Linked DNA regions of Homo sapiens: all the other regions are reported to be linked to region 1. The links are microRNA targets in miRTarBase. Many come from high-throughput screens and were not tested one by one. Region 1 holds a microRNA gene; each other region holds the end of a gene's coding sequence.
The links. The annotated mature microRNA hsa-miR-421 reads AUCAACAGACAUUAAUUGGGCGC and lies in region 1 at 3,333-3,355, shown strand. An mRNA with a match to its seed (bases 2 to 7 or 8) in the 3' UTR can be bound and repressed. Matches are read on the target gene's strand: a 7mer-m8 pairs with bases 2 to 8, a 7mer-A1 pairs with bases 2 to 7 and ends in A, and an 8mer does both.

Region 2: miRTarBase lists RBMXL1 as a target of hsa-miR-421. Seed matches in the 3' UTR shown: 7mer-A1 at 3,328-3,334 and 7mer-m8 at 1,598-1,604.
Region 3: the mRNA of RPL26L1 is a reported target of hsa-miR-421. The part of its 3' UTR that is shown has no 7-base or 8-base seed match.
Region 4: the mRNA of RHOBTB2 is a reported target of hsa-miR-421. The part of its 3' UTR that is shown has no 7-base or 8-base seed match.
Region 5: the mRNA of SRP9 is a reported target of hsa-miR-421. Seed matches in the 3' UTR shown: 7mer-A1 at 1,588-1,594.

What each region holds. Positions count from the first base shown.
Region 1 is chrX:74,216,642-74,221,746 of GRCh38, reverse strand. It overlaps MIR421 (microRNA 421), which reads left to right and starts at 3,286; the gene lies at 3,286-3,370. The region is part of intron 5 of FTX (FTX transcript, XIST regulator); the gene reads left to right. It overlaps MIR374B (microRNA 374b), which reads left to right and starts at 3,129; the gene lies at 3,129-3,200. It overlaps MIR374C (microRNA 374c), which reads right to left and starts at 3,198; the gene lies at 3,129-3,198.
Region 2 is chr1:88,978,329-88,983,433 of GRCh38, forward strand. It overlaps RBMXL1 (RBMX like 1), which reads right to left. Exons shown (of 3, transcript NM_001162536.3): 3 at 1,128-5,105. The coding sequence ends at 4,326. All of the region lies in intron 2 of KYAT3 (kynurenine aminotransferase 3), which reads right to left. Among named protein-coding and RNA genes, the nearest start is that of KYAT3, 12 kb to the right of the region's middle.
Region 3 is chr5:172,968,487-172,973,591 of GRCh38, forward strand. It overlaps RPL26L1 (ribosomal protein L26 like 1), which reads left to right. Exons shown (of 4, transcript NM_016093.4): 3 at 1-113; 4 at 927-1,285. The coding sequence ends at 1,055. Among named protein-coding and RNA genes, the nearest start is that of RPL26L1, 12 kb to the left of the region's middle.
Region 4 is chr8:23,016,976-23,022,072 of GRCh38, reverse strand. It overlaps RHOBTB2 (Rho related BTB domain containing 2), which reads right to left. Exons shown (of 10, transcript NM_015178.3): 10 at 1,874-4,821. The coding sequence ends at 4,604. TNFRSF10B (TNF receptor superfamily member 10b) reads left to right here. Exons shown (of 9, transcript NM_003842.5): 9 at 1-1,940. Among named protein-coding and RNA genes, the nearest start is that of RHOBTB2-AS1, 20 kb to the right of the region's middle. RefSeq lists enhancers at 2,016-2,175, 1,971-2,533, 2,534-3,098, 3,536-3,805 and a silencer at 3,394-3,561.
Region 5 is chr1:225,788,785-225,793,889 of GRCh38, forward strand. It overlaps SRP9 (signal recognition particle 9), which reads left to right. Exons shown (of 3, transcript NM_003133.6): 3 at 456-1,680. The coding sequence ends at 575. Among named protein-coding and RNA genes, the nearest start is that of SRP9, 14 kb to the left of the region's middle.

The DNA of each region.
Region 1 (5,105 bases):
CTCTGCCTCCTGGGTAGCTGGGACTGCAGGCACATGTCACCATGCCTGGCTAATTTTTGTATTTTTCGTAGAGATGGGGTTTTGCCATGTTGTCCAGGCTGGTCTTAAACTCCTGGGCTCAAGTGATCTGCCCACCTCAGCCACCGAAAGTGCTGGGATTATAGGTGTCAACCGCCACACCCAACCAAATGAGTTATAAGTTTGTGATCTGTTTTTAGCCTTTGTCCACAACTGTGGGAGTCACCATTCACTCTGTGACATAGGCTCTCAGAATGATGGCTCTCTTGACTGTGGCACTGATCATAGATTTAGAAGCTCCAGTATGGGAGGACCTTAAAAGTCTCCTATCCCAAATAGATTATTTTAAACTAACCCCAGTTCAAGTCCCTGGATAACATACCCAACAAATGGTCTTTTAACTTCTGAGTAAGTTTACTTGGTAACTGGGGACTCCTCCTTGAGTTAGCTTGTCCCTTCTTTTGAGACCTCTTTACAACATTGAGCCCCAAAATGTTTTTCTATAGCTTCAATTCATTCAGCATATTTGTATTGTACCACTACTCAAGAACATTGCTTTATTCTCACTCCTGCATATTCAGCATCTCTCCTCTCTGCTGTCATTTGAGCTGCCAGGCACTGTGCTGGGTAGTGGGGATATGGAGATGAATTAGACACCATCCCCGTCCTCAAGGAGTTCTCAGTCTAGTGAGAGAGATCAACATCTATGTACACATATAATTACAACAATATGGTATGCTCTACAATGGAGGTATGTATAAGATACTCTGGAGTTCAAAGAGAAATCATTTTACAGAGTCTGGAGATGACAGAGCTCAGAGTACCTGGTATATGAGTTGAGTCTTTAAAGAAGTAAAGTCACCTTTTGACTAGGTGAAAAACAGGGAAAGGCTTTCCAAGCAAAAGCATGGACATTGGAAGTAGTATGATGAGTTTGGGGAACTACAAATAGTTCTCTAAATTAGGTTGGAAATGTAGGCCAGGAATAGAACTTTATATGGTATGCCATGGGATTTGGATTTCATTATAAGTGTTTTCAGAAAGGGATGCTTTTAGATGATCACTGGCAGTAGTGTGGGGTGTGTTCAGGAATGTTTTCAAATCTGGACAGGGAGATGAGTTAGAAGGATACTGTGGTGGCTAAGATGAGAAATGATGTAGGGCTGAAAGGAGTGGGAGTGGCGAAGAGGGGATAACCTCTTAGGAAGTTATAAAAATTTAGTCATGCATTGCTTAGCAATGGGGATATGTTCTGAGAAGTGTATTGTTAGGCGATTTTGTCATGTGAACTTCATAGAGTATATTAACACAAACCTCTCTAAATGGTATAGCCTATTACACACCTAGGCTACAAACCTGTACAGCATATGACTGTACTGAATACTGTAGGCAATTATAACAGAATGGTAAGTATTTGTGTACCTAAACATATATAAACATAGAAAAGCTACAGTAAAAATATGATATGATTTTGTGGTGGGACAACTGTGGGACAACTGTCATATATGAGGTTCATCATTGTCCTAAACATTGTTAGGCAGCACATGACTGTATAGACATAATAGAACTTATAGGAAAAGTTATAGAAAAACTTATAGAAAAAGACCTTGATGAAAAATACTGTCATATTCTTTGGATGAATGTTGCAATTAACTCCTTTTAGATCATAACTTGACTGTACAGATTGTGCAAGATTGTTTTCTGGGAACAGCTGTATATGAAATGTTGATTCTCAGGGAGACACCTAGACACCTGAATTGCAGCAGACATTTTATGGTGTTGCTAAGTTGCTGGTCCTTCTCATCAGTAGCAGGCCTACTCTCACTGTCACATATCTCCCACGGTTTTTTTTTTTTTTTTTTTTTTTTTTTTTGTAATTAACCAAAAGTGAAGGCTTTTATATCAAAGACTCAATTGAGGAAGCAGTGGCCTTAGTCATTATTGGCATAATTGCTTTAGTTTGCTTATGGATCTTAAAACGTTTATGACTATATCTGCAAGTAAAAAAAAAATTCAATAATTAAAAACCTAAACATATCGAGTGTTTATTTTCTCTTTTTGCAAAGGTATATTCTAAACTCAATGTTCTTCGGGAAATTTTCCAATTAAGGCTCTGAGTATTGATATTTGGGATTTAGAGAATGGCTTTCTATGACCAGAATGGTTAGTGATGAGATTTTATGTAAGTAGGACTGGGTTTTTCAGGGGGCCTTGTGTAACTTGCCATCAAGAGTTGGGAAAGGAGGCCCTGAGCAGTGCAGCAGAGCTATGTAAAGTGAGAGTTTGGGTCTTGGGACCAGGTAGCCTGGGCTCAAATCTGCTCTCACACTTAGCAATGTGGTCTTGAGCATGATTCTTCACTTCCCCAGGACTCTGTTTTCTCTTATGTAAAATAGGAATAATATTTATTTTCAATGATGGGGGTAAAAAGTACTTAAAGGGACTAATTATGTAAATTGCTTAGAACAGGCCTGGAATATACAGCTAAATGCTGTGTCAACTGTTGTTGCTGATAATGGTGTTGACTATGACAAGTATTAAAAGAAGAGATTTGACTAGAGGTACTTATATTTTGAATGATCAGTGACGATGTTAGGGTTGAGAAAGAAAAACAGTAACTGACTTGAAGGTTTTCAATGGTATGTAAGTGTGAGGTCATTTCACCTTTTATTTCTCTGCCAGGTAGAGTGGGAAACCAAATTAATCACTCCATGATCTAGTGACTAATCTATTGCCTTTGCTTTTAGTTCCAAATAGAAAGCTGTTGAAAAGTTGTTGTATTACACCTGCATAAAGGTTATCCTGAAAACAGAAAAATGCATTAGACTTTGTCAAAACTGGATTTGAAACCTAATTCAACTGCTTGCTGGCTGTGTGACTTAAACTTGTTGAACTTCAGTTTCTTCCTCTAATATAACTATTAATTTTCAGAGTTTCCATGAAGATATTTGTAAAGTGTTTGTCATAGGCACTCTATACATTAATTACAGCTATTATTGTTAGATCTTGGGACACCCAGCACGTGACAAAAACAACAGCAGACCCTGGTGCCTGGGAGGACTTCATGGATCCAGCAGCAACCTGGAGTGGTGCTCCTCTGAAGAAATCCTACTCGGATGGATATAATACAACCTGCTAAGTGTCCTAGCACTTAGCAGGTTGTATTATCATTGTCCGTGTCTATGGCTCTCGTCTACCAGACTTTAAATTCCTTAAGGGCAAGGACAGTGCCTTACTCATCTTTGTATTCACAGTGCCTAATCCGGTGCACATTGTAGGCCTCATTAAATGTTTGTTGAATGAAAAAATGAATCATCAACAGACATTAATTGGGCGCCTGCTCTGTGATCTCCATGGGCTCAGCTTGTCCCCGCCAGTTGCCAACAACGTCCAAGCTCTCTTCAGAATGCTTACTCCTGAAGCTTATTCCTGTCTTCTAATTCTTTTGTTGAGGACTTTTCTGTGTAGTGCAATGATAGCAAATACACTTCATCTCAAGTACCATCTCCAATTGATTGATAATGCCTGCCCTGATTATGTTTTATAACAAGATTCTGAAACCAGGTCTTATCTCAGTGTGAAAGACATTTATAACTATTTAGTGATGTCTGCTGAGGGTCGGAGAAGGGGGAGTAGCAGCACAAGTGCCTCATATGTCATATTTGCTACTCTGTTTTCTATGAAATACTTCATTTCTATGCCTGCATTTTGGTCTTAGCTACTTGCTGATGTTGCATGGCTGTTGCTGCTACTGTAATTGCTGCTAATTGCTCCCTGGGTTGGACCAGAGTGCTCATTGTCTGAACAGAAACCTCATCCTCACAGTCTGAGGTTTGCTCCTGTGGCTGATATTTAAAGTTTTCCCCTTTCAACTTTACTCCAGCTATCCCCTTACCTGCACTGACAGGTAATCCTCCACCGTCCTGTTCACCTCTCACCAGGTTCATATTTTCTTTATCTTATTTATTGTACTTAATCATTATTTTGTGAGAAGCTTTTCTGATTGTAGATGTGACAACCAGAATACAAGTTAAAACCACTTATCCAGCGCCTTACAGTGAATCATTTAACATGAGAAAAAAATTGAGTGTGTTTGCAGACCATGGGGCAGAAGGAATTGAGAAGGGAGTCATTGTAGATGTGAGAAAGAGAGAGATGATAATAGATGGAAGATGATCTTGAAAGATGATGCAGGTGAAGCTGGAAGGGTGAAATTTATGGCTCTAGAACACATGCAGGTGGAGGGTTAGCCTTAGGTAAGTGGAACTACCTCTTTGCTGGAGCACAGAGATAGGGATAGGAGTAAGGAAGAGGACTTGGCAAGGGTGGTGAAGATTTGTAATTGTAGAGGTGGATGATGGGGAGGAAGCTGACCAGGAACAGGAATATGAAGACAAAAGCTGCTGGAACAGAAATACTAGAGGGCTAAATATGAACCAGAGTCCCTAAGGAATATTCAGGCCAAAACGCTGGAGTGAGACCATTAACAGGAGAGCTTATGGTATATCAAAGTAAGAAATGAGTTTGAAACTGGGTTAGAAGCTCAGGAAAATATGAAGTGGTTTTGGGGCATTGTCACTAGCAGTATTTGGTTGCCTTGATTGATTGAGGGGTGGACAGCTAGCAAGAGACGAGTTACACAGAAATGGATTTAAGAATCCAAACTAAGGCCGGGCGCGGTGGCCCACACCTGTAATCACAGCACTTTGGAAGGCCAAGGTGGGCAGGTCACCTGAGGTCAGGAGTTCGAGACCAGCCTGACCAACATGGTGAAACCCTGTCTCTACTAAAAATGCAAAAATTAGCCAGGTGTGGTGGCACATGCCTGTAATCCCAGCTACTCAGGAGGCTGAGGCAGGAGAATCACTTGAACCCAGGAGGCGGAGGTTGCAGTGAGCCGAGATCCCACCCACTGTACTCCAGCCTGGGTAACAGAGTGAGACTTCATTTAAAAAAAAAAATCCAACCTGGACATGGAAGGAAGTAAGGTCAGGAGTGGCCTCAGTCTGGGCCAAAAAGAGGCTTTAATGTGAACAAGGTGAGTGCTGAGTAATTGGAAAACTGGAGTGATAGGACCTGTAATCAGA
Region 2 (5,105 bases), not on the chromosome of region 1:
CCGGGTGGAGTTGTGGTGTCTTTTTTTTTTGAGACAGGGTCTCGCTCTGTCACCCAGGCTGTGGCAGTGCCACCATCATGGCTCACTGCAGCCTCAACCTCCTGGCTAAGGTGATCTCCACCTCAGCCTCCCAAGTAGCTGGGATGACATATGTGTGCCAGTATGCCTGGTTAACTTTAATTTTTTTGAGACAGAGTCTTGCTCTGTTGCTCAGGCTGGAGTGCAGTGGTGCAATCATGGCTCACTGCAACCTCACCTGCCCAAGTTGAAGTCATCCTCCCACCCCAGCCTCCTGAGTAGCTGGGACTACAGGTATGTGGCACCACACCTGGCTAATTTTGTTCTTAATTTTTTTTTTTTTTGGTAGAGATAGAATATTGCTATGTTGCCCAGGCTGGTCTCAAACTCCTGGGTTCAAGTGATCCTCCTGTCTTGGCCTCTCAAAGTGCTGGGATTATTGGTGTGAGCCTCCATGCCCGGCCTTAATTTTTTTTTTTTTCAAACATTCATTTGTAGAGAGGGTCTTGCTTTGCCCATGCTGGACTCGAACTCCTGGCTTCACACAATCCTCTTGCCTTGGCCTCTCAAAGTGCTGGGATTGCAGGCATGAGCCACCACACCTGGTGGAGTTGTGATTTTTGCTAAAGGGCAGAGTACATGCTTCAGATTGAACAGTGGGGAAGAGACAAGTGCATAAGATGCCTTAGAAGCTCCGAAGCTATAGTAATCAGATCTCTTAGTTATGTGAGAGAAACTCAATCTGAAACAGTTTAGATGAAAAGGGAGAATTCATTAGAAAGGTCATGTTACCATGGGAAAGGCAGAGGTCCAGCCAGACTGAATGGTAACAGAAACCAGGAACTTGAACATCACAGGGCTTTGCTTCATCTCCATTTGTACCCATTATCTCAGTTTGCATTTCTTTACTTGAGACTAAACAGAGTCACATCTCCCACCTTCATGGCCATAGAGGGACTGAGAGATGAACACTCAAAAAATGTTAATTATTATTAAGGCTTGACTTAAAAAAACTATAAGATCTATATATCATTCAGTGGGCTCAAGTATCTCTTAAAAAGTTGCCAGATTCTGAGCCATATAATGAAAGAAAAGTATTTACGAACATGTGTCTTACAAAGGACTTTAATACAGTATATATAAAGAACTTTTACAACTCAATAAGACAAACAATCCAATTAAAAGTGGGCAAAAGATTTGACAGCCACTTCACAGAAAATATACAACTGGCCAAAAAGTACCTTAAAAGATGCTTACCAGCATTAGTCACCCGGGGAAATGAAAATAAAACCACAATGAGATACCACTAGATTCCCATCAGAATGGCTGAAAACTGAGTGTTGGCAGTTGGAACTCTATACAACCCTGGTGGGAATATAAAAGGGTATAGCCCCTTTGGAAAACAAACAGTTTGGCAGTTACTTTATTAAACATAAATCTGCCATGCAACCCAACCATTTTACTGGTAGGTATTTACCCAAGAGAAAGGAAAACCTATGTCTACACAGTGGCTTGTACACAAATGTTCCTAACAGTTTTATTCACAGTAGCCCCAAACTGGAAACAATCCCAAGGTCCATCAACAGGTGAGTAGAAAAACAAATAATGGCATATTCACATAATGGGACACTACTCAGCAATAAAAGGAATAAGCTACTGATACACTGCAACCTGGTGAATTTCAAAGTCATTGTGTGTGAAAGAAACCATAAACAAAAAAGTACATGCTACACAATCCCATTTATATAAAATACTAAACACCACCACAAAGCAAACTAATATATGGTGACAAAGACAAATCAGCAGCGTGAGGGATGGACTGCAAAGGAACTTGAGGAATCTTTTGGGGGCGATGGAAGTGTTCTGCATGTTGATGGTGACAGTGGCTTCATGGCATATACATCTGTCAAAATAACCATTGAGTTGTAATTCTAAACAGATACAGTTTACTGTAACTTGATAAAGCTGAATTTAAAAAGCTGCCAGAGTATTCTGAAATCATGCCTTCTTTTCTCCCTCTGGACCAAGCACCCGCCCAAGCAAGCCAACTTTAACAAAATTATCTCATAGATTTTGGATTTTTTTTTTTTTTGCCATGTTAAAGTTGTATTAAGTTTCAATACAAAACATTCCAAAAAGTGAAAAGTGATCTATAATACCCAAGTTCTATGTTCAACTACCACTTAAACAAGGAAAACATTTTCTAATATCATTCTGTTTTACAACCAGTATAAACCCAGAAGAATCAAGATCTGATTCTTTTTCCACACGTCTGCTAGTTCAGTAAACTATTTATCAAACAGGTGTCTGGTCATTTTAACATACTCCTTGCTTTGAACAATATTCATTCATATTTGGTACAAACTCTATATCCTATATTTAGGATATCTAAATATTTTAAATATTTAGGATATCTTAAGAGCCAAAAGGTCCTCACAGAAGCTTTAACCCAAGTAATCATAAGAATATGGAAGGATTCGGCTAAGACAACTATGGAAGTGTAACAACCACATAAATTTGGTCATTACCCTTGTGGTCTGTGATTAGTAGTAGTCTGCCAAATGAGAGTTAAAAATGTTGTACTTACTATCCCTAGTTGCAAATGTTAAAACATGACAGTGCCATAATTACAACAAAAAAAATTAGAAGTTGAGTTAGTTCCTCTAATCCAACAACTCAAGTCTGTTTCCTTTGAGAACATTACACTATTGGCTCTAGTCTCCAAAGCAATAAACTAAAACTTGTTTCCAAGACGGGGAGGTAAAGCAGGCTTATAAAACAATACAGCAAAAGAAAGCCAAGTGGCCCAATTGTTTCCAGTGTGTTTGCCATCTTAGCATGGTTGTTACTTTCCAGATGTCACTCATAAGTTTTATTCTACAACTAAACTGTTTGTGGATAAGCCACCACAAAAAAATGTTTCACTTACTGACAAGACACTTCACCAGATAGAGCTACCACTTATATCCATCATTTTTATAATTCATCTTAAGTTCTAAATTGAAGAGTTGTCCCCATGACTTTAGCTAAACAAAATGAAACCCAAAGCTGTAAAATCTGTGTAAAGGACCACGAGAACCTCCTGACTACCTCCACTTACCAATTTCCTTAATTACTTCCCCTTTTCCATTTGGTCAATTACTTAAGTAACTACCACTCACTCCCTAGTTATGAGTGTTAATCAACACTGATGCCTTCCTGAGATCCACAGGAACCCTTGAAGGCAAAATCTATTGCCTGCACCAAACCAATTCTGACAGCACTGCTTATGCAACTGCACTGACTTACCAACAATCAGCCGCCTTCTGCTTCAACAACTCTTAGCATTTGATTTCTCTTACTGCCAGCGTTATCTACTGTGAATCAATCAGCACTCCACAAACATAATGAGCACAATCTTCAACCATCTTTGCTGTTTCACAGGCATTTGATGCTTTAAATCTGATGTGGAATGCTGATAGATTCACTTTTTAGAAGTCATAAGCCTTTAGGAAGTTGGAGATAAATTCATTGCTTATCTATTTTCTCCTTTGCAATCAAGCTGTTCCTTTAAAAGTGAGACATTAGAGTTGCAAAAATTTGAAAGAGTAAGAGCAAGCACCTTTGCAGCTTCATGGTTGGTTTTGGCCAAACTTTTTATTTAGTATTCCGTAGTTGTTTAGCACACACTTAAATGGTCTTATTGTGGGAGGGGAAAGGGGAGGTTCTTGCAGATTCCCAAGGAAATGTCAGAAAGGCAAAATGGCCAGCATTATCCATTTGCTTTTTTTGGGTTTACTGGGTGAATAGCACTTTCCTTACATAGGCATCTGATTTCAGGTTTTGCATACTGAGAACAGTGAGATTTCAGTTAGAAAACACCCTGAAATCTTATGAGTAGCATACTCCAACCACCCTCTAATAGCTAGCTTGTTTGTATAGGCAGAATGATTCATCTCTCCATTTTAGTTGGCTAGATGTTTTGTGGAAGATCTTAGAATTGCTTGCCTCATTTACTGGGAAAAACCAGATAGGAAGTGGTCTTTAGGGACACCTTTACTTGGAAAGTTACAACACTAGTACTACAAGGCTTAACACATTTAACATTTGCTTGTTGAAAAGCAATGTCATAAAGTCAAATAAAATTAAACATGTTTTACTTTTTTCCTCACAAGAACATAAAAATTACGGAAGGGACTTAACAGGGAATTTAAAAAAGGTAACACAATTTTTCCTTTTAGTAGTCCTTGGGTAGTTATGATAGAATAGTTTCCACTCTTTTTTTTGTTTCTTTGAACTGGGATTTTGGTCCAAAGTTTTGTTTGTTTCTAGTATCTGCTTCTGCCTCCCCCTCTATCAGATCGGCTTCCTCCAGGGCCAGCACCTCTTGGTGCTCCGCGGCTTGAACTGCTGTAGGAATCACGTGAAGAAGGGTACCCCCTTTCTACAGAAGGGGGAAGCCCTCTTTCTTGTCTGCCAACCCTGTCACAACTTGAGTAGAGATCACTTCGGCTGCTTGAGTAACTGTCTCGACTTCCACCATATCCATCACGTGAGCTGCTATAATCATCATAGCGACTGCTTCCACCATAAGATGGCGGGGGCCCTCGTGTAAGTGGAGCACTACGTGAGTTACCATAACTCTCATATGAATCTCTGTAGGAACCTCCACTTGGATGATCTGAATAGTCACGATCACGACCATATCCATCTCTATCGCCATAGCCTCTTGATGGATAGTCATCACGTGAACTGGAATGACCATAATCACGGTAAGTATAATCTCGTGGTGGTGGTGCATAATCTCTTGTATCACGAGAACTTGGGTAATCTCTGCTTGAATAGCTGTCTTTAGTAGAATACCCATCATCTCTTGGGGACAAATAAACATCTCTACGAGAGGGGAGCGGTTCCCTTCGAGGTGGACCTCCATAACTATCTCTTCCACGTGATAGAGGAGCTCTTCCTCCCATTCCACTGCTGCTGCGAACTAGTCCTGAAGGTGCAGATCTCTTAGGAGAAGGACCCCCACTTCTTGGTGGTGGTCCTCTTTTTACTGGGAGTGGTCCCCTGGAAGAACTCATGTTAAAATTCATGGAATATCCACC
Region 3 (5,105 bases), not on the chromosome of region 1:
AAATTGGCAAGGTAGTCCAGGTGTACAGAAAGAAATATGTCATCTACATCGAGCGGGTGCAGCGTGAGAAGGCCAACGGCACAACTGTCCACGTGGGCATTCACCCAAGCAAGGTATGGTCAAGGACTGAGTGGCAGTAGCAGCCATGGAGTGTGTCAATACTGTTCAAAGTTATTGGTGTTTTGGTACTCCCTGCACAGTTGGCTGAGGCAGGCCAGGTGGACTTGATTGATTCAGTAGCTTTGTGATATCATCAAGGATCCAGATTTTTCTTCTCTTCTCTTTTCTGTTTTGCCTTTCTTGGTGATGGCTGTGTCTTTTTTTTTTTTTTTTTTTTTTTGAGACGGATGCTCGCTCTGTCACCAGGCTGGAGTGCTGTGGTGCGATCTCGGCTCACTGCAACCTCCACCTCCTGGGTTCAAGCAATTCTCCTGCCTCAGCCTCCCAAGTAGCTGGGACTACAGGCACACACCACCACGCCCAGCTAATTTTTATATTTTTAATAGAGATGGGGTTTCACCATGTTGGCCAGGATGGTCTCGATCTCCTGACCTCGTGATCCGCCCGCCTCGGCTTTCCAAAGTGTTGGGATTACAGGTGTGAGCCATCATGGCCGGCCGATGGCTGTGTCTTTAAGCTGGTTGCAAGAGGCTTCCAAGTGTTCTAGGCATCACTTCCCCTACCACATAATATTCAGAGGAATAAGAGAGAATATATCTTCCTGTAGCCCTCATGCCTACCTAGTGGAACATGCTATTTTTCCTTTGTGTTCCTATTTTGTATTGTGTTACAGGGTCTGTTTTCCTTCCAGAGTTTCAGTTCCTTAAAAGCTGAATGGCTGAGGTCTTACTTAACTTATGATGTCTATATTGCTCAATAGCTGGTGGGGATGCAGAAATAAAGACCTGTTTTCTCACTCCCAACAGGTGGTTATCACCAGGCTAAAACTGGACAAGGATCGGAAAAAAATTCTTGAACGCAAAGCCAAGTCTCGACAAGTTGGAAAAGAGAAAGGCAAATATAAAGAAGAACTTATTGAGAAAATGCAGGAATAAATAGAACCTGTTGTGCAACCACGGTTTAACCGGAGATTTTGAGGCTAGGGTGTGTTTCTTTCGAACTTTTCGGAATGTCTGGAACATTTCATTTCCTGTTTTGTTACCTGTGCCTCTGTAAATCTACTTTTGCAATTTTAAGTAATAATTTTATGAATAAAAATGGGAAATGCTTCCTAATTCCACATAGTATTTGCATTGTTTTATAAATAAATTCCACTTACTATCAATTCCCCTTTGCCAGTCTTTTCCTATTTAATGTGTGGAACAGCAAAATCGCAGGGGTAGGGTTAAATGGCCCTCCTCTTGCCTGGACTCTTGTGCTGATGAAGTAGAAAGGGCAGGGCTCTAGTCTTATATAGACAGGCCTCATCATCTTGCCCAGGCTGGTCCTGAACTCCTAGGCTCAAATGATCCTCCTGCCTTGGCCTCTCAAAGTGTTGGGATTACAGGCGTGAGCTGCCATGCTCTGGTCCTTGACACAGGGATTTGCCCCACTCAGTAGCAGTTGTAATGTGCACTGTCACATCTCACGCCTGACAGATTGCTCTCTGGCCTCCTGACTTGGGCTTCCCCAGCTTTCTCTCCAAGTGCCAACTAAACCAAATCATGTGCAGCTCCCTGACCAGGCTTATCTTCCCAAAGTTTTGACTTTGCAATTGCCATTTTCATGTGACTAAAAAGCCCCTTTTCCTCTGGAACTAACTTGAGAAACTGGCAGCCTACAGGAAAGATTTAACTGAGATACTGTTTTTCACTATATTTTCCAACATTTAAAATGTGGGAGACTCCACAGAGAATCACCTGCTTCACCTGGCTCCACGGGGCTCTCCCTGTTTTGCAGTGTTAAGTGCAGCCAAGGGCTTGGCGGTTCCCTATCCCACCTGCTCTGCTCCCATACGCTTCTTGCCTGGCCTCCATTGGCCTCCGCATTAGACTCCTGGTCTAACTTTCAAGCAACTAAATCTTCAAGATTTAGTTCCTTTGGCCAGGCACAGTGACTCATGCCTGTAATCTCAGAACTTTGGGATACTCGTGGGAGGATGGCTTGAACCCAGAAGTGTAAGACCAGCCTGGTTACTGAGACCCCACCACTACAAAAAAAAAAAAAAATTAATTTTTTTAATTAGAAAAAAAGATTTAATTCCTTTGAGAGGTATGTAGTGAATAAAAATTTTTAGAAAATGTATCTCCAGGGCCACATCCAAAATCCTCTGTCCCTGTGGGAAAAAAAAAAAAAACTTTTTTTGAGATGGAGTCTCCATCTTGCTTAGGCTGGAGTGCGGTGGCGCTATCTCAGCTCACTGCAACCTCCGCCTCCCGGGTTCAAGTGAACCTCCTGCCTCAGCCTCTCAAGTAGCTGGGATTACAGGCCTGCGCCACCACGGGGTTTCCCCATGTTGGCCAGGTTGGTCTTGAACTCCTGACCTCAAGTGATCCGCCTGTCTCAGCCTCCCAAAGTGCTGCAATTAACAGGCATGAGCCACTGCACCTGTCCTAAAAAAAAACACAAAAAAATTTTTTTCAAGAGAGGGTCTTGTTCTGTCACCCAGGTTGGAGTGCAGTGGTGTGATCTCAGCTCACTGCAGCCTTGACAGCCCAGGCTCAAGTGATCCTCCCACCTCAGCCTCCCAAGTAGCTGGGATTACAGGCATGTGCCACCACACCCAGCTAATATTTAAATTTTTTTGTAGAGATGGGAGTCTCAGTATGTTACCCAGGCTGGTCTCAAATTCCTGGCCTCAAGTGATTCTCCTGCCTTGGCCTCCCGAAGTGCTGGAATTAGACATGAGCCACCATGACTAGCCTAAAAAATAATAATGTATTGATTAAAATGTATCAAACAGCCTTTTATGACTTTCTAGTAATGGTTTATCTGACACACTGGAATTTCTTAATAAATGTTAATTGAATCAGTGTTGTTTCCCATTTTGACTGATGAAGAAAACAAGCTTAGGTTAACTGTCCAAATCACAGCATAAGAAATGAAGCCAAGATTTGAACCTGAGCCTGACTGCATCAAAAGGCCATTCACTTCCCACATTAGCCACTTATCTTTAGTCTTCCTTCCTTCACTCTTGTCAGCCTTTCACTGGAGTCTGATAAGAGACTGCATATTTATGTGGAACAGACAAGAACCTATGTGTTTGCAGCCGGTAGTGCTACTTAGGAAAGCATTATCACCAACTGTCCAGGTCTAATCCTAGCTCTGCCACTGGGCAGTCATCAGCCTTTGAGCAAGTTACTCATCTCTGGACTTCTAAACAGATGATAATACCTGCTCTGCCTTCTTATCTCATCGAAAATGCAAAGATAAAATGGCAAGATCAGATGGGCCGTTTCTGAGTACTCTTTGAAAGCTATGAGTATACAAATGTTAATTTCACTATCATTGTTCAGTTTACTTATATGTCCAATTCTGACATTCACTCTGCACTCAAAGAGGCAGTTATTTTTCAGAAAAGAAATCAGTGAGTTTGGCAGGGCGCAGTGGCTCACACCTGTAATCCCAGCACTTTGGGAGGCCAAGGTGGGTGGATCACCTGAGGTCAGTAGTTCGAGACCAGCCTGGCCAACATGGTGAAACCCCGTCTCTACTGAAAATACAAAAATTAGCTGGGTATGGTGGCGCACGCCTGAATCCCAGCTACTTAGGAGGCTGAGGCACGAGAATCGCTTGAACCCGGGAGGCGGAGGTTGCAGTGAGCCAAGATTGCACCACTGCACTGTAGCCTGGGAGACAGAGCGAGACTGCATCTCAAAAAAACAAAAAAAATCAGTGAGTTCAAAAACCACAAAACTCAAGATGTGTTCTCTGACTTGGCATTGATACACTGAACTCACTGATACAAGGTAGACAGATACTGTCCTGTCCCTGGAGTCAGACAGATTTGGGTTCAAATCCTGCTCTTGTTCTTGGGAGGTCATTTTTCTGATTCTCTGTTTTTCTATTTATGTAAAAAGCTGCCAGACACAGTGGCTCACGCTTGTAATCCCAGCACTTTGGGAGGCTGAGGTGGAAGGATCGCTGGAGCCCAGGAGTTTCAGACCAGCCTGCGTAACATAGTGAGACCCCATATCGACAAAATAATTTAAAAACTAGCCAGGTGTGGTGGCCCATGCCTGTAGTCCCAGCTACCCAGGAGGCTGAGGTGGGGAGGATTGTTTGAACTCAGAAGGTCAAGATTGCAGTGAGCCATGATGACATTGCACTCTAGCCCGGGCAACAGAGCGGAACCCTGCCTCAAAAATAACAAATAAATAAAAGAGTAGGTGCCCACCATACAGCAGCTGTATAATCATTAACATGCTGAGCTATGTATCTAATGAGTATAGTGAGTAGGTTAACTAGTAAATTCTGAAATTTATATTTTCTAATTTGATTCTTGTCTTTGTTCTCAACCAATACATATTTTAGGACTCTAAGAGTTGCATGAAAGTCAGATTTCATACTAAACTCACAGCTCCTTACTCTACAGTCTGTAACCTGGTCTGAGCTCCAGGCTCCAGCCATTACTTTCATTAGTAAATTTAAGTTATGATATCATCTAGGAATCAGACCTGGCTTGTTTTCAGCAACTTATTCCAAGAAAAATGACCAATAAGAGCTTTGAGAGCTGCAATCCCCCTGTAGGTATCCAAATCATACCACACTGCTTATACTGAGCCAGGTTGATAATAATAATGCATGATCAAGAGCAGGAACTAGGCCTCAAGTTGAGTTCTAATCTTAGCTCTGTCATTTCCTAGCTGTGTGACCTTGGGCAAACTGCTTAACCTCTCTGGGCCTCAGGTTTGTCATTTATAAAATGGAGATAAAATTAGTACTTACTTCATAGAGTTGTCAGACTTATTACTTGAGATACTGTGTGTAAAGCACAGAGTGCTCAGGAAGTTTTAGCTATTGTCTTAAAGGAGATTGGCAATGGAATTCGTTCACAGGAACATAGAGAAAAGTTTTTCTCCAGGGAGGTGAGACAAATACTGATTCTTGAAAAAAGGGAAGGGTTTAAGGGCAACAGTGATGTGTTTGGGCTGCTGCAGGAAATG
Region 4 (5,097 bases), not on the chromosome of region 1:
TGCTCAGGGTGGTCTCGAATTCCTGGACTCAAGCAGTCTGCCCACCTCAGACTCCCAAAGCGGTGGAATTAGAGGCGTGAGCCCCCATGCTTGGCCTTACCTTTCTACTTTTATAATTCTGTATGTTATTATTTTATGAACATGAAGAAACTTTAGTAAATGTACTTGTTTACATAGTTATGTGAATAGATTAGATAAACATAAAAGGAGGAGACATACAATGGGGGAAGAAGAAGAAGTCCCCTGTAAGATGTCACTGTCTGGGTTCCAGCCCTCCCTCAGATGTACTTTGGCTTCAATGATTGGCAACTTCTACAGGGGCCAGTCTTTTGAACTGGACAACCTTACAAGTATATGAGTATTATTTATAGGTAGTTGTTTACATATGAGTCGGGACCAAAGAGAACTGGATCCACGTGAAGTCCTGTGTGTGGCTGGTCCCTACCTGGGCAGTCTCATTTGCACCCATAGCCCCCATCTATGGACAGGCTGGGACAGAGGCAGATGGGTTAGATCACACATAACAATAGGGTCTATGTCATATCCCAAGTGAACTTGAGCCCTGTTTGGGCTCAGGAGATAGAAGACAAAATCTGTCTCCCACGTCTGCCATGGCATCAAGGGGGAAGAGTAGATGGTGCTTGAGAATGGTGTGAAATGGTTGCCATCTCAGGAGTAGATGGCCCGGCTCACTTCTGGTTATCTGTCACCCTGAGCCCATGAGCTGCCTTTTAGGGTACAGATTGCCTACTTGAGGACCTTGGCCGCTCTGTAAGCATCTGACTCATCTCAGAAATGTCAATTCTTAAACACTGTGGCAACAGGACCTAGAATGGCTGACGCATTAAGGTTTTCTTCTTGTGTCCTGTTCTATTATTGTTTTAAGACCTCAGTAACCATTTCAGCCTCTTTCCAGCAAACCCTTCTCCATAGTATTTCAGTCATGGAAGGATCATTTATGCAGGTAGTCATTCCAGGAGTTTTTGGTCTTTTCTGTCTCAAGGCATTGTGTGTTTTGTTCCGGGACTGGTTTGGGTGGGACAAAGTTAGAATTGCCTGAAGATCACACATTCAGACTGTTGTGTCTGTGGAGTTTTAGGAGTGGGGGGTGACCTTTCTGGTCTTTGCACTTCCATCCTCTCCCACTTCCATCTGGCATCCCACGCGTTGTCCCCTGCACTTCTGGAAGGCACAGGGTGCTGCTGCCTCCTGGTCTTTGCCTTTGCTGGGCCTTCTGTGCAGGACGCTCAGCCTCAGGGCTCAGAAGGTGCCAGTCCGGTCCCAGGTCCCTTGTCCCTTCCACAGAGGCCTTCCTAGAAGATGCATCTAGAGTGTCAGCCTTATCAGTGTTTAAGATTTTTCTTTTATTTTTAATTTTTTTGAGACAGAATCTCACTCTCTCGCCCAGGCTGGAGTGCAACGGTACGATCTTGGCTCAGTGCAACCTCCGCCTCCTGGGTTCAAGCGATTCTCGTGCCTCAGCCTCCGGAGTAGCTGGGATTGCAGGCACCCGCCACCACGCCTGGCTAATTTTTGTATTTTTAGTAGAGACGGGGTTTCACCATGTTGGTCAGGCTGGTCTCGAACTCCTGACCTCAGGTGATCCACCTTGGCCTCCGAAAGTGCTGGGATTACAGGCGTGAGCCACCAGCCAGGCCAAGCTATTCTTTTAAAGTAAGCTTCCTGACGACATGAAATAATTGGGGGTTTTGTTGTTTAGTTACATTAGGCTTTGCTATATCCCCAGGCCAAATAGCATGTGACACAGGACAGCCATAGTATAGTGTGTCACTCGTGGTTGGTGTCCTTTCATGCTTCTGCCCTGTCAAAGGTCCCTATTTGAAATGTGTTATAATACAAACAAGGAAGCACATTGTGTACAAAATACTTATGTATTTATGAATCCATGACCAAATTAAATATGAAACCTTATATAAAAAGAGGTGTGGTTTTTGTCTCCCGCCCCCCAACCTCCCCTCCTCCTGTGAATCAGCTCTGAGTGACAGGAAACCAGGGCTGTGCTCCTGCTGGGACTCCTTCCTTCCTCCCTCCCCTCTGTTTTCAGGCTTGGCCTCCTGGGGGTGTTTCCTGAATCCGACTCCCCAGAGTTTAAAGAGCTAGGTTCCTGGGGACTGGGATTCATACCTCCTTCCCCTCTCTCTCCTGCCTGCTCCTCCCTCTGGGGACAGGGACACCAATGTTGGCCTGGCTCACCCACAGCCTCCCAGGAGAGTTCTCTGGGCTGCCGGGTTGCATCTGGTTCCGACAGCTCTCGGGGAATGGGCGGTGGGTCCCTGAAGTTGGGGGGCCGGCCCTGTTTCTCAGGGAATCCCGTGGTCACTCTCCTATGGCTTCCTACAGCCCTGGGTCGACCTTCACTTTCTCTGCCCCGGCCTTCCCTGCATCCCCACCAGGGTACCCAGGTTGCTCAGCGCTTCAGGCACCTAGGAGACCTATTTCCCGTTCCCCTTGCCCTGGAGGACCCGCTCTCCCTTTCGTCCACAGCTTCCGGGAGGCCCAGGTGTGCCCCCACGCTGTCCATCTTCCCTAGAAGTGGAGGTGCTCCGGGTTCCCCCTTCGTCCCCCCAGCCCTGCCCATGGGCTTCTGGGCCTCACTTGGAGCCCTGGGCTGCGCTGAGCTGCAGGGAGGCCGAGCAGCCTGTAGAGGGCAGCATACGCGTGGCTTTCCAGCCAGCCGCCCTGGAGGCCGTGGAGGGGAGGCAGCCACAGTCCTGGAGGGGCCTGGGCCTGGACAACATGGCCGCCCCCAGGGTTAGAGCCGCTTGTCCTCCAGCCGCCTGGTCTCTCTTGATGAGGATTTAACCTCTGGTCATTAGGTCCTGCCTGCTACCTTTGTTTCAGGTTAGCTCAATCCCAGGCCTAACCAGCGTTTTCCTGGAGCCCACCCCAGGGCCAGGCCCTCTCAGCTAGAACATCTCTCTCAGGTAAGGCGACTCCTGAGCTCTGAGCCCACAGCCCCACTGCCTCCTGGCTCTGCCCCTCCTCCGTGGGACTCCATCTTTTACACCTAAAAAGAGTGTGGGTGGTGAAATCTGAGTCGGGGTTAGAAAACGGAAAGGGGCAATTGTGGCCCAGCTGCTGCCCCATGGGGGCTGGGAGCTAGTTTCAATCCCCCACATTCCTCCAGCCCCGCCCTCCTCCTCTCTAGACCAACTCTGCTTTTCCTCCTGCTCCATTCTCCCTCTTCTCCTTCCCCTTATCCCACCCCAGCAGTAATAAGGCTGTGTCCTGTGGCCTTTCACTACAGGTCAGTGCCCCTTTCCCTGACTTTTGGCCCCTATTGCAGCCCCGCAAAAACACCCACCATAAGCACTCTCTGAGGGTAAGGAAGGGAGCCTGCAGTCTCCAGATGGGCAAAAGCAAGAGTCTGGTGCCATTTAAGCCCCGAGACCAAACCCCTCTTTGCCGCCAGCCCGGGCCCCTCAATCACCAGCCCTCTAGAGGCCAGGCCCCTGTGTTGCCCTCGGAGCCAGCTGGCAGGGTCAGGGCCTCCGCAGTCAGAGAAGTGCCGAGTCCTTTCCTGAAAGGCATTGGAGTCGATTCTGCAACCTAAATCTTCACCTCCTCATCATGGGGGCCTCTGTTTATAGAAATGTGAGCTAGGCAGGGGCTTTTTCTGATTTTCATTCTTTGGAGGGATAGAGGACAGAGTGTTTGTTGATTTTTCGTTTCGGTTTCAGTTTGGTTGTCATTGGTTTTTGTTTTTTGCTAATTTTGCCCCACCCTATAAAAAGCAGTGCCACCCAGAGGCAGGGGAGGGCCCTGAGGAGCACGGGGTCGCCGTGCACTCATTCCTACTTCCTTCTCCACCTGTCCCAGCTGCTTCCTTTGGTTACCATCTCCAAATCTGAGGGTAAAGGAGGGGGTGAGGGAGAAGTTTCTTGTTGCACCAAGAGGCACTGCTTCCAGGCCTGGAGCTCTGAATGACCTGTGTCCCCATTCTCAGGTCTGTGCTAGCACAGCCCCCTGGGACGGAGGGACACTGGCAGGATACAGGCCTTTCCACGTCTGGCCTTTTGCAGCTGCACCCCAGGATGTAGAAGCCTTGAGTTGGGCTCTGAAGGCTCAATTTCTACCCTGACTTCTCCAGTGAGGGTGTGAGTAGGCTTCGTGTGGAAATGCCCACAAAACAAATGCAACACTCAAGTCCGTCGGTGGAAAGATATGGCCAACAGGGGCAGGACCCTCGAGGATCACTTCTGCTTGCTGGGAGTGGGGCTGCCTCCCTGGCCAGAGCAGCAACCAAGACACACAGAGAAGCCCTGGAGGCTGGGAGGCTTTCCCTTTGACTCTAGGGCTCTCAAACCCAGAGATAAAATGCCAGGGCTCTTCGCTCCTCCAAGCAGTTGTCTCCCGTCCTGCTTTGGGTCTGGGGACCTCTGCAGGTGGTTCCCGTTCTGCTCCACAGGGCTCAGCTCCTCTCTGGCTGAGCCACGGTGGCTGGTAAGAAGAGCTCCACCCTCTGGGTCCTGGTTACGTGGGCCCCCTGGTCCCTGTAAGGTGGATGGGGTGATGCGGAAGAGCAGAGGGGTGAAGGCGGATGGGGACAACAGCAGCAGGGTCAGAAGAGGGTGGCAGCATCTCAGACCACAGCCGAGGAGGAAGATGGGGATGAGGAGGAGGCTGCCGAGGAAGACGGGGAGGATGGACTGTTCCAGAAGAGCCAACGCCGTTTGGGCTGCCGCTTGAGGTGGAGGTAGTCCTCCTTCTCACGCTCCTTCCGTGCCCGCTGGTAATGATCTTCCTCCTTCAGGTACCACACAGGTGGCCACCGATGCTTCTCGAAATACTCCTGGTTTTCTGGAGCAGAGAGCAGGCAGCTTGGTTAGAAAGGAGGCAGAGGGACAAGAGGAACGTGGGACACCAGCCCTACCCCACCACAAGGCCTGCAGCAGGCCTCCAGCCCAGCCCCCAGCACATCCCCATGACCCACGGCACATGAGCCTCCGAGGCAAGCAAAGTTCCCAAAGAGCAGGGCTGAAAGTCAGCACTGGGGAAGGCCTTTCCAGCTGGGTTCCTTTCCAAAGACGGGCGATCTAGACAAGGGCTTCCTGTGCGTTGGGAATGAAACAGAGG
Region 5 (5,105 bases), not on the chromosome of region 1:
AATTATTATCAAACCCCCAATTTCACCAGTAGAAAAAGAGATCTTAAGATTTCTGTGTTTTTTTTTCCAGCATAACTCAGTTACTTATGGCTGGGAGAAAATATGTAGGGAGATAATCTAATACCTAATTCGAAGGAAGAAAATATCTAATTCTAAGTCTTGAGTTCTTCTCATCAGACCATAGCAGGATTTAACATTTAACATTTTTCAGAAGCTTCTAATAGACTTCATTCAGTTTTTTGTCCACAGCAGTGGCATTTAAATTACTGTACTTTAAGACATGGAATTGCTGGAGGCTTGGAAACTTGAGTGCAATTTCCCTAGTACGACCTCCAAGGAGAATAGAGCAAAACAGTGGTAGGAAAAACTCTCAAAATTTTACCCAATTGTATGTTTTCTACATTGTCAGTATCTAGTTTTATATAGTTAATATGTACTTCTAAAATTTCTGACAGTGTTTGGTGTATAAAACAGACCAAGCTCAAGATGTAAAGAAGATTGAGAAATTCCACAGTCAACTAATGCGACTTATGGTAGCCAAGGAAGCCCGCAATGTTACCATGGAAACTGAGTGAATGGTTTGAAATGAAGACTTTGTCGTGTACTTAGGAAGTAAATATCTTTTGAATTAGAGAAAGTGTTGGGACAGAAAGTACTTTATGTAACTAAGTGGGCTGTTCAGAAGCTTAGAGGTCATTTTTTGTAATTTTCTTTTTAATTACTTTAGAGAGCTAGGGATGCAAATGTTTTCAGTTAGAAAGCCTTTATTTACTTTTGGAAATTGAACAAGAAATGCATCTGTCTTAGAAACTGGAGATTATTTGATGTTAGGTAAAACATGTAATTGTTTCTCTGGCAAATTTGTATCAGTAATTTGAAAATGAGATATTAGGAAAAACCAATTCTTCTTAAATTTAGTTCATCTTTCTTTAAAAGAACATTAAATGTAACCATTTTGTCAGATCCATGTATTTTGGAGCATAAAATGTATGCTGTTGTGACCAATAAATATAAAATATGGTAATTGGAATTAACTCCACACCATAGTATGCATTGTTATACATACTGTGTACCTAATTATGTATAGCAGTGTAGTCTCAATTATATCTGAAAGTAATTGTGACTAACAAGTATGCTTTGCCTTATTTCCACATTTAAACTACCTGTTAATATAAGGGATTTGTAGTATCAGCTTGTTGAGCAATGACTTTGAATCTAGTTTTCAGTGATCAGAAGCAGCAGTTATTTGAGTGTATGAATGGAATGATGATCACTGTGCTATAATGTACTGAAACCACCATATTACAGAAATATTTACTACATATTTTCCATCTGTAGTTTCTCAGAAGGGCTATGGATTAGTTTGAACTGTCAAATCCTTGCATACTTCTGTGACACCCCTGCCCATTTTCTGTCTTTAATTAACCAAGGTGTTAGGTGTGACTGTCACAACTGTTATGTTTTCCAGTAAACTAGAAGTACGATATTTGATAATTATATTTGTATTTCACCACCTAAATGTAATGTTGATTCCTCAAGAATGAAATGAAGGCACTACATTGAAATATGTTTTGTATAAATTTGTCATGTTGAACAGCATTTTAGCATGGTAAGTTCCCTTAGCTATATGAATTTTGGCATGTTTCAGAGAGATCAGTAAATAAAATATTAGATAAAATATATATTGTTTGTGTTGAAGTTTTTAACTTTTCAGAAATTGTTGATTTCTGAGCTGGGATATACTATATTCATTTAGTCCAAAATGAGCCTAGTAATGCTGAAAGCAAATTTTTTGTTTCTCAGTACTTTATATTATATGACTTTCTCTGCACTATATGTTAATAGCAAGTTTGTTTTCTTGAATTAGAAAAGTAACATCAAATAGTATAGGATTATTTTGGCTTTTTGTTTTTTTTTCCCCCAGAATTAATGGGATCACCATCAGGGGAGGGGAGAGGCTTGACCTTTTTCCCCCTTATTTAACACTACAGAGATGACCTGAAAAGGAGAGACTGGCATTTGGGTTCTTTGAGTCCTGGTAGCGTGTAACAGAGTGGTTAAGAACAGACATTCCAAGTCAGACTGCCTGGCTTTAAATCCTGGCTCCACTATTTCCTAACTCTGTGGTCTTAGACTAGATACTTTTCTAAGCCTTCATTTTCATCTCTGGAAATGGGGCCAACAATAGTACTTTGCTTGTAAGACTGTTAAGATTAAACATCATGATCCAAGGCTGGGCACAGTGGCTCATGCCTGTAATCCCAGCACTTTGCGAGGCTGAGGTGGGCGGTTCATTTGAGGCCAGGAGTTTGAAACCAGCCTGGCCAACAAGGTGAAACCCCATCTCTGCTACAAATACAAAAATGAGCTGGACACAGTGGCACACTGTTGGGGTGATCAGGCCCAACACCAGGCCATGGGGGCTACAAAGTCCAGCAGGGTCAAAGGAATGAGAAAAGACGAGTGCATAAAGTGGGCCAGGCACGGTAGCTCACGCCCGTAATCCCAGCGCTTTGGGAGGCCGAGGCGGGCGGATCACAAGGTCAGGAGGTTGAGACCATCCTAACACCGTGAAACCCCGTCTCTACTAAAAATACGAAAAAAATTAGTTGGGTGTGGTGGCGGGCGCCTGTAGACCCAGCTACTTGGGAGGCTGAGGCAGGAGAATGGTGTGAACCCGGGAGGCAGAGCTTGCAGTGAGCAGAGATCGCACCACTGCACTCCAGCCTGGGTGACAGAGTAAGACTGGGCCTCAAAAAAAAAAAAGTGCATAAAGTGGGTCCAGAGGGCCAGTGCCAGATTGGAGGCTGTGAAGGCCCCAAGCTCTGGGAGCCCACACTATTTATTGGTGATCAAACAAAGAAGCAGGTGGTAAGGACGTGAGGGTAAACAGGTGAGGGCGTGAGGATGTGGGGTAGAAAGGTAGTGGTACATAAGCGTAGCTGTGATGGTTTAGCATTTCGTTTGATGTATATAGAATATGCTCTGCTGCTTGAGTTAATGGAGGACATGTTTACAAGTAAGAAGCAAGGAACCAAGTCTGTGCACATTCCAGAGGCTACAAGGGGTCTTAGGCCCTGAGCCCTGGGTTCCATCCAAGCCACAAGGGGTTCTATGCCCTGGGCTTAGATTGTGGTGCGGCAGGGCAGCCTTCCACCCTTTGGCACAGAGCTTGGTGTTCCAAAGGCCACGAGGGGTTTTAGAACCTGGACCCCGGACATCTTTCAAGACTTACATTATGACAGACAAGCCAGTCCTGCCTCAGCTCTTCTACCAACATGTCTCCCTTTCCTTGTTTGCAAAACCGCCATAGTTATCATTGCTTGTTCTTGGCGGTGGCTTTCTCTCCAGAGGCAGCTTCCACATCTGCAGGCTGTATAAAGACAAACAACACAGATTAAAAGCACAATCATTATTGAAATCACAGAGCCTCCAAGTGTCTTGATCGATTTTAGCAGGTTAATAGCTGCTAATCCATCTGCAGCTCCTTCAAGCACTTCACTTCCTGGCATTAGTGTCAGATGTGCCTGAGAGGCTTGAAATACTTGTTCCTTCAGTTTTGCAATATCCAAAGATAAATTTCCAGTATGACCTTTTTGTTTGTTTGTTTGTTTTTTGAGGCGGAGTCTCGCTCTGTCGCCCAGGCTGGAGTGCAGTGGCGCGATCTCGGCTCACTGCAAGCTCCGCCTCCTGGGTTCACGCCATTCTCCTGCCTCAGCCTTCTGAGTAGCTGGGACTACAGGCGCCCGCCACCACGCCCGGCTAATTTTTTGTATTTTTTGTAGAGGCGGGGTTTCACTGTGTTAGCCAGGATGGTCTCGATCTCCTGACCTCGTGATCCGCCCACCTCGGCCTCCCAAAGTGCTGGGATTACAGGTGTGAGCCACCGTGCCCGGCTCCAGTATGACCTTTTAAATGTCTCAACTTTTTCCCACTCATGCTCTGTTTCATTATACAGATGAGGAGTAATGTAAAAATCAGAGGTATTTCAATCACAATGCATTCGAATTTTACTTTTTAAGCTTACAATAACGCTCTCCCAATCAAATCACTGTCTGATGGAGATCATTAATTTGGTTCTTTGATTTATTTGAGTTGGAGAGTTCCATAATTTTGTGGAATTCTTTTGCCACTTATTGACAAATTTAACACTTTGTACAGATGAATGTAGAGCCATTCATGTACAGCTATTGCAGTAGTAGTAGTAACAGCAACGAGGCCAATTATAGCAACTATGAGAGCAACTATAAATCTTTTTGAACGGGATAAAAGTTTTTTAAGGATTTCATTTACTGTATGAATGGATGGAGATGCCGCCCACGGTCTATTTAAAGACATAGGTATCCAGACTCCTTCCCTGGCTTTAATTATTAGGACAGTCTGATTTTTATTAAAGGTTGAACTAATACAGGTAAACAAATGACATGCGGGGCATGAAATAAAGTGTGTGTTTATATCAAGAGTAACATTTCCTATTGCTAGCAGAAAAGGTGGCCGGACACAACTTTGAATCCAAAAAGTCCTGTTGGAAAGAAAAGAAAGAGCATATTTATTTTTACCTCCTTCCCCTTTATACTTGTTATATTTACCCTCCCAAATTTGGATTGAACTTTGAGCCATAGCTAATTTCCATAATTCAGAATGTTCCTGTCCTATGGCAGGAGATACCATTTTTGGACTAGGGGCGACAATGCCAGTAGGACTCCATATGATAGGGACCTCAGCTTTTGTCCAAATATATTGTGTATTATTTAATTGCCAATGGTTCTATCAGTTTGTTACATTTGTTCTACAAGAAGGCCTTCTGGTGCAATTTTCTTTAAAGATCCCCTTAGGGGACTAATTAATGATGATTCCATAGGAATTATTTTATGGCACCTCAGCCTTAACTTGCTATACAATTTTCCCAAGTTCAAGCATCCCCACCTTTAAACTAAACTCTATTTTGTTTATATTTGAACTTATTCAGATGGAACCTCAGGGTTTTAGGATGGGAATGATTATATTTTAAACTGTGCCCTGAAATCATATGCAAAACAGCCCATGATTTATTTTTTCGGGGAATACTGCCAACCAGGCCTGTGTGTCAATCTGTAAACCTCCAA